Linked DNA regions of Homo sapiens. The protein of the gene in region 2 binds, or shares a complex with, the protein of the main gene of each other region. Each region holds a gene or a part of one and is shown on either strand. Other genes may lie near its edges.

Region 1 (8,214 bases), on a different chromosome or scaffold from region 2:
TAATAATGACAATGGCAATTAAAATAACAACCTTTAGACATTTCACATAGATCATGCTATTCAATCCTCACAACAACCTTACAAAGTATATACCATTAACCACATTTTACAGATAAAGAAACTGAGGGTCAGAGAGGCTAACTAACTTGCCCAGGACCTCATAGCTAGAAATGAATACATAAATGAACAATGAATAAAAGTTAGCACCACTAACAATTTTACACACATGGTAGAAAAGAATGTTCATTTCACCATATTATTTATGTAATAGAGCCTGTGTTTAGCACTGAGAATGTGCACATTTGGAAATTGTTGAAACTTACGTACATAACTGCCAAAAGTAATTTGAGTATCTCAGAGACATTCTAGAAATAAAAAATACTTATGCTGCACTTTACAATTCACTAATCCACACAAATGGTTTGTGAAGCAGCTATCATTCCTTTTATAAATAAGGAGAAAATAGCCACACTGTGCCCAAAGGTTACCAGATCAGAAGGGGGCTGCCTAACAAGCCACAGAGCAACCGCATTCCATACCTTTAGGGGAAATCACATACCAAGGGTAAGAAAGAAGGCCAAGAATTGATGATGTTTTCTAAAAACACAAATTAGAATCTATGAAATAGCAGTAGTATAATGGTAATCTGCACACCATGGAAGGACTAGAGAGAGAGACCTCTGTAACTGAATGAATATCATCATCCTTTAATTTAAGAAAACATTAAAATCTGCATGTAGTTGAATGGTAATACAGTGTACTTCTATCCTAGATTTAAATATACCAAAATACTCTAACTTAAGTGTTAAAAGCCTGAAATACAGACTGAACATAGTATATTTTGGATATTATTAAACTACATGAGAGACAGAACAATCCACATTCTTACCTGCAAATGATTCAAATACTCAAAACAATGATTACAAAGCAAAAAGGAAAGAAAGTATATTAAAAGAAATCACAAAGATTGGGAGAAAAAACAATGTACAACAGCCCAGTAATAAATAGAATACAAGAAGCTGAAGTGAAATAGCACGCACTTAGATACCAAAAAACTGGCTTATGTACAACGAAGCAATCGTTTCTTATTGTGAATGGATGTGGACAACCAAAAATAGCCAATGAACAAATTTAGTTAGGAGGTGATGGGAGAAGAAATGTGAAAGAGGAGGACAGTACTACATTCATCCAACGTGGACAAAAATCCTTGAGGCTAGAAAGAATTCAGTTTCCTATAGTAGAAAGATATAAGACAATAACAGTGGTTTGACACATACCAAGAACTTAAAGTAAATGTAAAGTATCTAAAACTTACTTTGTCACTTCATGAAAGGCTTCCATTTAATTGACAGTCATGCACAAGCTCGGGAATGAAAAGGACATAATCTTAGGAAAACCAAATGATTTTACCTAAAAGCCAGTCATCAGAAATCTGCAAAACACAATTAGAGTGAAAAAGAAATCTACTTTGTTTTTACCCTAAATATGTTGGTTCTGAGATAGATTTACAGAGAGATAGTATAAAATTACTAGTATCCACAGAAAAGAAGCCAGACCTAGCTTTTCAGACACATCATGAATTGACTATTAAACATAATATTCATTTTGATAAGTGCTTTAAATTGTTTCTCTGTTATAGCCACATGTGTTCTTAGTCCTCAGAGTATATTGGCATTTTACATTATTGATCCTCCCCCCTCTTTTAAACTTCTGTGCAGCCCATTATCCTGATTCTTCTAACTCTATGAGTTATACTCCAAACCACGAGCCCTAGAGCAGTCAACCCCCAAGAACTTGTTCACTCAGTTTTACTTCCACACAGATGACTCCCAAATCTTCACTGCCATTCCATACCTCTCACCCAAATTCCAGCTCAGCATTTCAAGCAATGTAAAATTACAATTGGCTTGCACTCAATCCAAAGCCAAAGTAACAATCCATATGACAGAATACTGGGCAGCAGCTAAAGAGGAGATAGAGACAGACAGATACATTGATGGATATGACAAGATCATCAAGTATATACTATTATTCATGAAAAATCAATATTTCAGCATAGTATACAAATATCTCACTTTTAAACAAAAAGCTTCCAGAAAGATGGAGAAGAAACTGAACAATGGTTACCTCTAGAGAATGGGGATATGGATGGTAGGAGAATTGAGACAGACTCACTACTTATCTTTGTATCACCTATATTTTAAATTGTATGGCTGGGCACAGTGGCTCACGCCTGTAATCCCAGCACTTTGGGAGACCAAGGCAGGTGGATCACCTGACGTCAGGAGTTCGAGACCAGCCTGGTGAAACCCCGTCTCTACTAAAAATAAAAAACTAGGCTGGACGCGGTGGCTCACGCCTGTAATCCCAGCACTTTGGGAGGCCAAGGCGGGTGGATCACGAGGTCAGGAGATCAAGACCATCCTGGCTTACATGGTGAAACCCCATCTCTACTAGAAATACAAAAAAAAAAAAAAAAATTAGCCGGGCGTCTGTAGTCCCAGCTACTCGGGAGGCTGAGGCAGGAGAATGGCGTGAACCTGGGAGGCGGAGCTTGCAGTAAGCCGAGATCGCGCCATTGCACTCCAGCCTGGGCGACAGAGTGAGACTCCGTCTCAAAACACACACACACACACACACACACACGCACACACAAATTAGCCAGGCGCGGTGGTGCATGCTTGTAATCCCAGCTTGTTGGGAGGCTGAGGCAAGAGAATCACTTGAACCCAGGAGGCGGAGGTTGTAGTGAGCCAAGATCGTGCCACTGCACTCCAGCCTGGGAGACAGAGCGAGACTCCATCTCAAAAAAAGAAAATAAAATTTACTACGTGCATCATTACTTTTATAATTTACTGTATAAAAACTAATTAATAAAGAAAAGTAACACAAAATTATTAAATCTCAATGTTGGAAATAAACATTAACTTCAAAACAAACTAGCTTCGGAAATGAAATTTTCCCAGGGTAGAAGTCAGAGACTCTATACTGACTTGGGCTCTACAACCAATACCATAGTGGCTCCAGGACAGAAAGGAAGGAGAGCAAGTTCTGTAGCATCTTAAATCCCACAGCATAAATCCAGAGCCATATTTGGTGCTTCTAGAATCTTCACTGTCAGTTGCAACTAAAAAATAAAACCAAAAAATGTGAGAACAGCACATCCCATCAGCTTGTTGGCTGGGGTCCGGTACCTGCTCTGCAATAGTTAACTCAGTCTCTTGATTATTTAAGGTGTACAGTGCTGGCAAACAGCTAGAAGCTCACAGACTCAGCGGCTGCAGCTCACTACACGGTTTTCAGAATCAGAGAGAACAATCTCCGTATTTTTATCACAGGATAAAGGAATAACTATCCTTTGGAAACCACTCCACCCCACTTCCAACAAACATCTACCTCTGAAACCTTATTACTTCTGGTTTGGCAAGTTAGGGGTAATTAATCAACTATCCTGTCTGTTGGGGCAAGGGAAATGGAAGAAAAAATTTGGAGAGTAAAAGAAGTAGAGAAAGTTCCAAAACAAATTATATTTTGGACAGATGGCCAAGAGTCTATATTTCCATTGCTAGATTTACCAGTTAGTTTGGTAACAAATGCTGATGTTTCATTAAAGAGAAAGACAAAAATAAAAAAGAAACAGATGAAAGAATGAATAGTATATGGAACCTCTACTGAAGAAATAAGAAATTTAACCAGAAAGTCAAACAACTAAAATTTGCAGTATAGAAACTCTGAAAATGAAGACGTGTCTTTAAGAAAATCCAACACAGTATTTTCACAACTTGAATTAGCAGCAGAATGCAGCATGAAATGAACAGACTTTAAAACCATGGAACCGCGTTGGAATCTGTGTGATCTTAGGCGAATTACTGATCACCCCCTCTGAATCTCAGTGTTCTCTGTAAAATGGGTATGATTAAATAATACATCCAAAATGCCTAACATTAGAGGGATAAATGTCAATCCCTTTATAAAGTAAGCTTTAAGTTATAGAAGTTTTTTAAACAACCTTATGTCAAAGTTCCTTTAAATGCAGTGCTCCTACCACATTTAAAATGTGAAAACGTTTAAGAAAATGTAATAATTCAAGAATAATCTCAAGAAGCAAGGTATATCTGCTCCTTCAATTTATTGAGTAGAACTACAGCTGGAGACAGAATTTTCAGTTTAAAGGAAATATCCAGGTACACAATTTAGGGACACTTGAGACGTAGTTCATCAGGTGAAACTGTTGCAGATACAAGGAAAAAATGGAGAGAGCTGAACTGCGTATGTCAAGTACATAGAAGCGTGTTACGGACATAAAAATTAAGGGAGTCCACAGGAAGTATTTATGAAGACAACTTCAAACAACACACCCTAAAGCAATCTGTAAAAAGCAGACAGGAAGAGACTAGAGAAGGTTGTATACATGCAGAAAAGCAACGGAGTAGCTCTGTTCTCCCTCCAAATGATCCTAGGATCATCAGGAATCAATATTGCTTCCCCACTCCCATTGAGGCCTGCTATCTGTAGCATCCACACCCTGAGTTCAAAAGGATTTTCCTCTGTAGAAGTACAGCTTAACTCCCATGGCTTGCATTCTTTCTGGGCCACCAACAATTTAGCTGCTGATCACTTCTTTTACCTTGTTACTTGGCTGTCACTGTGATCATGCACTGCTTTCACGATCACTGGTATTTCTGGAATATCTACTCATTTCTGGAAAATTCTCGGTTCCTTCAGGCAAACACTTGATCTTTTCCTAACATTAAAAACTAGTTTACCTACAAAGTCTAGTTAAAATTTCCGGGAAACATTTTTTCAACACAATGCGAAATTCTCCCTATGGTACTAGAAACCCAAATCACTGCATGAATCAATACATGTGAAAGTCATAGTAATTAGTACAAATTAGTAAAGCTGAATTTTTCTGTATGCTGAATTATATACTTTACGTATTATTAATCCAGTATTTACATAAAGGCTGCATTAACTCAATTCTCCAGCTAACAGCATTACTGGAATCACAAGTATGTAATTTAAAGCATACAAGCAACTTAACCATACTCTTTTAATAGAGTGTATGTACAAACACAATCCATACTAAACTGATAAATTTCTTCATATTAAATCAAGCCATTATAGTGGAAAACCATCATCAACTGTTATTGAAGCAATCCTTGTTCTGTGTTGTTCCAAACGTCAGACAATCGCCATGTTAGCATTAGATGAGTGTCATAAATCAATGTGGATCTTAAAAGGCCCAAGAAATCAAAGCCAAACACAAGCTAAAACTAAATTTTTACACAATAAGGCTGAGAAACACAAGTGCATAGAAGATAAAATCCATGTTTTAGCCATTTAGCTTCAATACCTTCCAAAAAGAATTTATTCTACTTTGTAAGAATTGTAAGCCTCTGAAAAGCCAGTCCCAAAATATTACATACATAATCTAAGTTTTAAGCCAATGATTCCTCATTATAGCTGCATATTAGAATCACACAGAGAGCTTTAAAAAAATGTCAGTGACCAGGACCCAGTCCCAGAAACTCGGACTTCACTGCTTTGACACAGGGCTCTGGCGTTGATCTTTTTTAAAAGCTCCCCGGATGATTCTAATATGCAGCCAGGTGGAGAACCACTACTTTAAACTAATGCAGGCTCTTCGGACAATAATTGCTCTGAGGTTGACAAACATGCTTTTTTGCCTTTTAATGAGATTTTATTAAAACTACTCAATTCATTCCACAGCTAATGAAAGGCAGTTACATTGCACGCACTGTGTTAATGGAGAAAGATGTGTAAGAAACATTCCCTGCCCTCAGGAAGCTCCTTATTAGTGAACTAGAGAGATCCATAAATAAGTAACTGTAATTAAATAAAAGTGCTCTCGAGGAGTAAGCAAATACAGCATGCCTCACAAAGTTGCACGTCATCCTTAAGCAAGGGTCATGCTGCATCATTCCAATTTTAGTGTATGTCCTACCAGAGCAGGAAAGTCTGAAGCTACAGGCTACTAAACAGGGCAAGTATTCACCTAACACAAGGTAAAAATGGTATGTATTTTGTTATTCCCTTTCATACACACTGCTGTACCAAGAAAGTAGGCATTTTTCTATGTTTTAATTTCGATGAATTGTCTTAAATTTCCTTCATGTAGTATTACCGGTTGTACACTTACTTATAATTGTAAAAGATACAGTAAATGATCATGACATAAAAATTAGTCATTAACCTCATTTGCATAACGCCCTTCCTTTCCAGTAATCGCTACATTTGCTAAGACAAGAAGTTTTGGGACTATGATAAGGTCTTATTATTGGAGATTTGTTTCAGTCATTTAAAAGATAGTTACATAGAAAATGTTATAGAACCAACAGTCACTCAAAGGAGTTTCTGCAAGATTTTCAAAAATGAGAAACACAGGGAAAAGAGTTTTAATTTTTAAAAAGGGAAACGGCATCCTTCCAATATTTGTAACAAATTGGGCACATGTTCCCTCAAAGACAGCTTTAACAAGGGTAAAGGCTGCAACCACTGGAAAGAAAACATATTCCAAATAATGATCTTATATTTCAAAACCTCATTAACTCTGTAAGTTATCTTTCTCAACCAAGGGGGAAAAAAACACACTGAAGGGTCTAAATTAAACGAGAACTTTCATTTATGCCATCAAGTAAGGCCAAGTACACAGTGGGTGAGTGAGTAGGTGGTTGCGTAGGTAGAGGAGTGAGTGGGTAGTCAATTAGTCTTGAAAAGTGAAATCTATTTTAAAGTACCTTAGTAAAAATTAAAACCTATTAAGATCTAGTGGTGAAAAACAACTTGTGATACTAATTTGGTAAAAAAGAAAATCAAAATTCCATAGAACTTGGATAGAAATCAATAAAAAGGTTTTCAGTACATGTGAATATCTTCAAGGGCTTTCTGTTCAAATTCAGAGGTGAACAAATTATAAGTTAAAAATGTATGCTGTCAAGGTCCCTGCAAGAAAATCTCAAGCTAATTTCAATTTCCAGATCAATATATACTAAGACAATTTACTAGAGAAACCTTCAACCTTTACTCAGATTGAGGAACACTATTATTACATTCTTTAACAATAAGGCTAGCTTGAATTCATTATTTCACATAATGGCATTTTATAATTGGCACTGACCAAGTCAGATTTTGTAGGATATGAATGAGATTTCACAGTTCATAGTAGTTAAGGTAGCCATAGAGTACCTATCACCTCAAAATTAGCTTGCTGCCCCTCTTTATGCAGCTCTGAAACAGTCAGAAAAGATGAATTTTTTTCTCCCAGGGGTGTTTCCTGAAAAATATTCTATCAATTACAAATCAGCAGAATATGGACTGTGTTAATGTGATTCTGACCATTTCTTTTTGATATCCAAAGAGATCACATCATCACCCTTCCAGACTTTAAGGAATCAGAACTAGTTACCAAAACTGATTCAGAGATGGCTATTTTACATCTTCACAATATAATTAACATTTTAATCTCACATTTTCCAATTATGACTTTGTTAGTTCATTTACATCAGCTATAACTAAGATGCAACAAACATCATTCACCCACACATACAGTCATTTGGAGGCTTTTGGGAAACACCTAATTTATCTTCACTGGGTGCTCCTAAGAATGAGGAAACCAAGGAGATTTTTGATGCATTTTTCTCTCTAGAACTGTGCTATTCACATGTGGCTACTGGGCACCTGAAACGTGGCTGGTCCGACTGGGAAACTGAATTTTGAATTGTATTTAATTTTAATTAATTAAAATTTAAATTTAGAAAAAGGTACTTGATTCGGTTATTGGAAAACTTTTATGTATATTGGGAACAACTTGGGTATGTGAATATACTTTTGCAAACGCAAATTTTATGAAACCTAAATACAGATTAAGTATTTCTGATTTTCATCAGAAATGTAGCTTAGTGTCAGAATTGAGATGTGCTATTAGTGTAAAATACACATTGGGATTTCAAAGACTTAGCATAAAAGATGTAAAATATTTCATTAATATTTTTTCATATTGATTACATGTTGAAATGTTAAGTTTGGATCTACAGGGTTAAATAAAATATTTTATTAAAATTAATTGCACCTGTATGTTTTTATTAAATGTGGCTACTAGAAAATTTTAAATTACAAATGTGGCTCATAATATATCTTTTGGACAGTGCTGTTCTAGAACACTTCCACAAGCACTTTAACAGGACACATTTG
Region 2 (4,640 bases):
CCAGCTAATTTTTGTACTTTTATTTATTGACTGATTGATTGAGACAAGAGTCTCATTCTGTCACCTAGGCTGGAGTGCAGTGGTGAAATCTTAGCTCACTGCAACCTCTGGCTCCTGGGTTCAAGCAATTCTCCTGCCTCAGCCTCCCAAGTAGCTGGGATTACAGGAACATGCCACCATGCACCGCTAATTTTTGTATTTTTAGTAGAGATGAGGTTTCGCCATGTTGGCCAGGCTGGTCTTGAACTCCTGCCCTCAAGCGATCCACCCTCCTCGGCCTCCCAAAGTGCTGGGATTTATAGGTGTGCGCCACTATGCTGGGCCTCAATTTTTGTATTTTTAGTAGAGACGGGGTTTTGCCATGTTGCCCAGGCTGGTCTCAAACTCCTGGGCTCAAGCGATCCACCTGCCTCGGCCTCCCAGAGTGCTGGGATTACAGGCCTCCCAGAGTGCTGGGATTACAGGTGTGAGCCACTGCACCTGGCCCCAAAACACCAAATCTTGATGTTTGGTGATTTTAAATATACATACTGTGGTGTCCAAATAGACCCTGTCTCAAAAAAAAAAAAAAAGATTTGGTGTTTTTAAAGTTGTCTCTAGGTAAGAAAGTGTGGATGATTTCTCATTCTAACCAATAGGTATTGTTCATGAGAATTAGGAGAGGCCTTACATATACCTTGTTAAAATGAAGTATTTGTCCCTTTAAAATTTAAAATTCAAAAAATAAAATTGACAAATGGGTTCTGTATGAATTTACCTTTTGCCCTGTATATAAAGTAAATCTTCAAGATTCCATCAGGGAGATTATCTGCCACTAATAAGTAAACGTACAAAATATGGGTCAGCAATTCATTATAGTAAAATCAGAATAATCAAAATAGTGAATATAACAAAACCCGAATAGAAAAATTTAGTGAATGGATACTCTGGTCTACTAAAGTTTTGAAAAAAACTGAGTCCTAACACTAAATGCTTTTTGTTGTTCCTCGGCTGTGTGGCACATTTCCACACTTTTTTAAAGTTAATGGTGGTGATGCCTTGGACTGTCTAACACCTAGTCCAGTAGTCTCCTGTCTCTATGCCTAGGTCATCACCTTAAAGGTTAATTTAACAAATCCTTACTTGGACTTATTTTCCAATGATTTTCATTAGAATATGGCTTCAATCCTCAAAGCTCCAATTTAAAAATTCCGAGTTTCTTTGATCAAAATATAAATTTGATAATTTCTTATGAATCTTATTCTTCTAAAGTTTTTAAGCATAAAGGTTGTTTTCTAAATACCAAAAATAAAAACTTGCTAATTTTAATTTTTTGACCAGAATTATTTCCTTTAGCTCATAAGGTTCTGAAGCTATTTTACATGAACAAAAGCAAACACAAACAGTATTTACTATGCCAGGCACCTTTTTAAGGGCCTTACAGAAAATGGCATGACACTTACAGGCATTCTTATTAACAAATGACAGGTGAGGGAACTAAGGCACAAAGAAATCAAGCAACCTGTCTAAGGTGACACACGGTAATGGTGGAACTGGGATTGAAACCAGAGTTGTTTGGCTTCAGAATCTGTGCTCTCAATCACGTCATACTGCCGCTCTTGAAATAACACAAGAAAATGTTTTCTTTAAATTTTATGAAAGACAAAGCAAAATATAGAAATTCAAAGTTTCATTTCAGCAGCCACCAGGAATTATGTTTTTTTATACATACCTTTCATAAACGTTATCTATTGTGTAGTTATATCAACTTTTTTCAAATCCAAAGAACGAGGACATAACTCATACAAATTTATTTTAAATAAGCCTTAAAATCAGAATTAAATTGATAAATGAAGTAATCTATTGAAAAATGTTATTTTACATCCATTCTGGGTATTACCACAAATTTTAAAAGTAGAAGCATAGCATTTGCCAGTTATTTTAAAAAACCGAGTCAATACAAATTAGTCTCAAAGTTCTTGAAAATTAATAAGTGATTTTTCTCACTACTTAACCATACCTGGAATAACCTTTGAAGAAACACTACTAGCAAACTTTAGACAACAATTATAAAACCAGATTGTTGGCAGAGGACACAACAAAATGTAAGTTAGAAAATTCATAAACATACATTTATTCAGGAAATACAATTACTAGAATCCTTGATATTTCAATGATCATTCCACATTATAAAATATTCACAAACATGTAGTTTTTTAAGTCTACACCAGGTCATGCTGACATTCTTTTTGGATAAGCCATAACCATTTCTTCTATTAAATGCTATAATATCCATTTTAATTGTAAACAAAGTACTTGAGCCAGACTACTTAAGTACTTGAGCAAAATAACTTAAAAAAATCTTAAGAGGAGGAGGACAATGATATTTTTTAAAAACATATTTGAGGCTGGGCATGGTGGCTCACGCCAGTAATTCCAGCACTTTGGGAGGCCGAGGCGGGCGAATCACGAGGTCAGGAGATCGAGATCATCCTGGCTAACACGGTGAAACCCCGTCTCTACTAAAAATACAAAAAAATTAGCCGGGAGAGGTGGCACACGCCTGTAGTCCTAGCTACTCGGGAGGCTGAGGCAGGAGAATTGCTTGAACTGCCTTGAGGTGGCGGAGGCTGAAGTGAGCCGAGATCACACCACTGCACGCCAGCCTGGGCAACAGAGCAAGACTCTGTCTCAAAAAAAAACAAAAACAAAAAACAAAAAAAAAATTTGAATCGTCAAATCCTAAAGAACTAGGCTGCTATTATCTAGTATTATACTAACAAATGAAGTGCCCACATTAAGACAGTACATAATTATTAACGACAATATTTCTCATCTGCAATTTTTAAACATGCTTTCTCAAATAACAAACACGTATTTTTGTAAGTTTTAAAGGCAAAGGGGGCAGAATGATGACAGACATAAAAAGCTCACATTTAAATTACTGGTAGATTTTATTAAAAAAAAGAAAAAAGAAAAAAAAAGATAAGACTGTAATTACTTCCCAAATAAGGAATGCCAAGTACCTTTTATTCCTAAAAGAAATTACTTGGCCAGGTGCAGTGGCTCACGCCTATAATCCTAATGCTTTGGGAGGCTGAGGTGGAAGCCAAGGAGTTTCAGGCTGCAGTGAGCTATGATCACACCACTGTGTTCCAGCCTGGGAGACAAAGCAAGATCCTGTCTCTTTTAAAACAAAAAACAAACAAACCAAAAAAAAAACAAAAAAAAAACCTAAGAAATGTAATTAATCATTAAGTAGCTGCAAATTGAACTGTTCTATTTTGATACTTCCTAAGAGTGTCCAGTGTAATCAGATCATTTTATAATGGGTTATTGACCCTAGGTGTCCTTTAGAACCACCTGGAAAGCTTTACAAAAAAAAAAAAAAGGGTGATTTTGATTTAGTTGTTATGGAATAGGACCCAGGTATCAATTTTTTAAAGCTCTGCCAGGCTAATATGTAGCTAAGATTGAGAATCACTAAGTCAACACATTTTGATATATCAAGAAAATAAATGGAAATGGGGGTGATAATTTATATTTGTAATTTACAAATCAAACATCTATCATACACTTACTATGTACCTAGTTTTATTCACGAATCATCCATTTCTAAGATAAAAATTCCCATCATTTCCTCACTGCACTAAACCACCACTGTACATCTTTGCCAATGAATGACTGTATTTTTCTATGGTCAAGATTTAAAATTCTGGGATACATTATGAAAACTGCATTAATGAAAACAACCTACTGCTATTCATGCTCAACAGTAGCAAGCTAAACTACTGTACTTGGCTCCTTTGAGCTACCCTTATTTTAAGAATTATAAATAGGTGTCAACCCACACAAAGAACAGATTGTGGATTACCGTAGGGAAAAAAATAGCTTACTCAACTTACTAAAAGTTTCAACACCAAAAAAGATTTAACTTGGCTGAAAGTTCTGAAACAGCTGAGACACAGAACCAGGAAGCTATAATTTATAATGAAATGTTGATACATACTTAAAAGCTACTGCAGCTGTAGCTATACTAAAATAAGATTTCTTCAGGGTTTACTTACCCTGAAATGCAAGAATACAAGCATAACAATAATATTACTGTTTTTATATGCACCAATACCTCTCTTTAATATATAAAGCTCTACAACAAATACCTCTAATAATTTTACAATTAAATTAAGTCCATACTTCTATACTACTTTGGTCTCAACATTTTTAAAACATCAATTAATTTTGAAAATTTACAATTTAACAACATGATCCTATCAATAACAAGCACATTTTGTAGTGGATTAAAGACACATTCAACCATGCAATCCAGTGTTCAATACCTTAATGATAAATAACAATGCTGATTGACTTTTATTTTGAAAAATCATTGAAAACTGGAATAATCATCTGAGACTCACAGTGATCACAAACATGCAGAAAAAAGCATACAATTCTATTCTTCCTGAAGGAATGTTACAAAATGCCCACTTTTTTATATAGGGTCAATATGCCAAATTACTTATATTTTTCAATCCATCATCTTCTAACATTTGTCACTTAAATTTTTCTTAAAGTACAAATGTTCCTGTAAGTTGTAACAGAAAATGAACCCCAACTCTTTCAGTCTTTAAGACCTCAGTCACAGTCCCACACTAATAGCTGCC

Evidence for each region.
Region 1: LIN7C (region 2) and CASK share a complex: the UniProt entries of both Homo sapiens proteins name them as parts of the brain-specific heterotrimeric complex.

What each region holds. Positions count from the first base shown.
Region 1 is NC_000023.11:41,913,371-41,921,584, forward strand, and holds part of CASK (peripheral plasma membrane protein CASK), read right to left. Parts: intron 1-8,214. UniProt on the Homo sapiens protein: Multidomain scaffolding Mg(2+)-independent protein kinase that catalyzes the phosphotransfer from ATP to proteins such as NRXN1, and plays a role in synaptic transmembrane protein anchoring and ion channel trafficking.
Region 2 is NC_000011.10:27,492,801-27,497,440, forward strand, and holds the end of LIN7C (protein lin-7 homolog C), read right to left. Parts: 3' UTR 1,618-4,640; downstream 1-1,617. UniProt on the Homo sapiens protein: Plays a role in establishing and maintaining the asymmetric distribution of channels and receptors at the plasma membrane of polarized cells.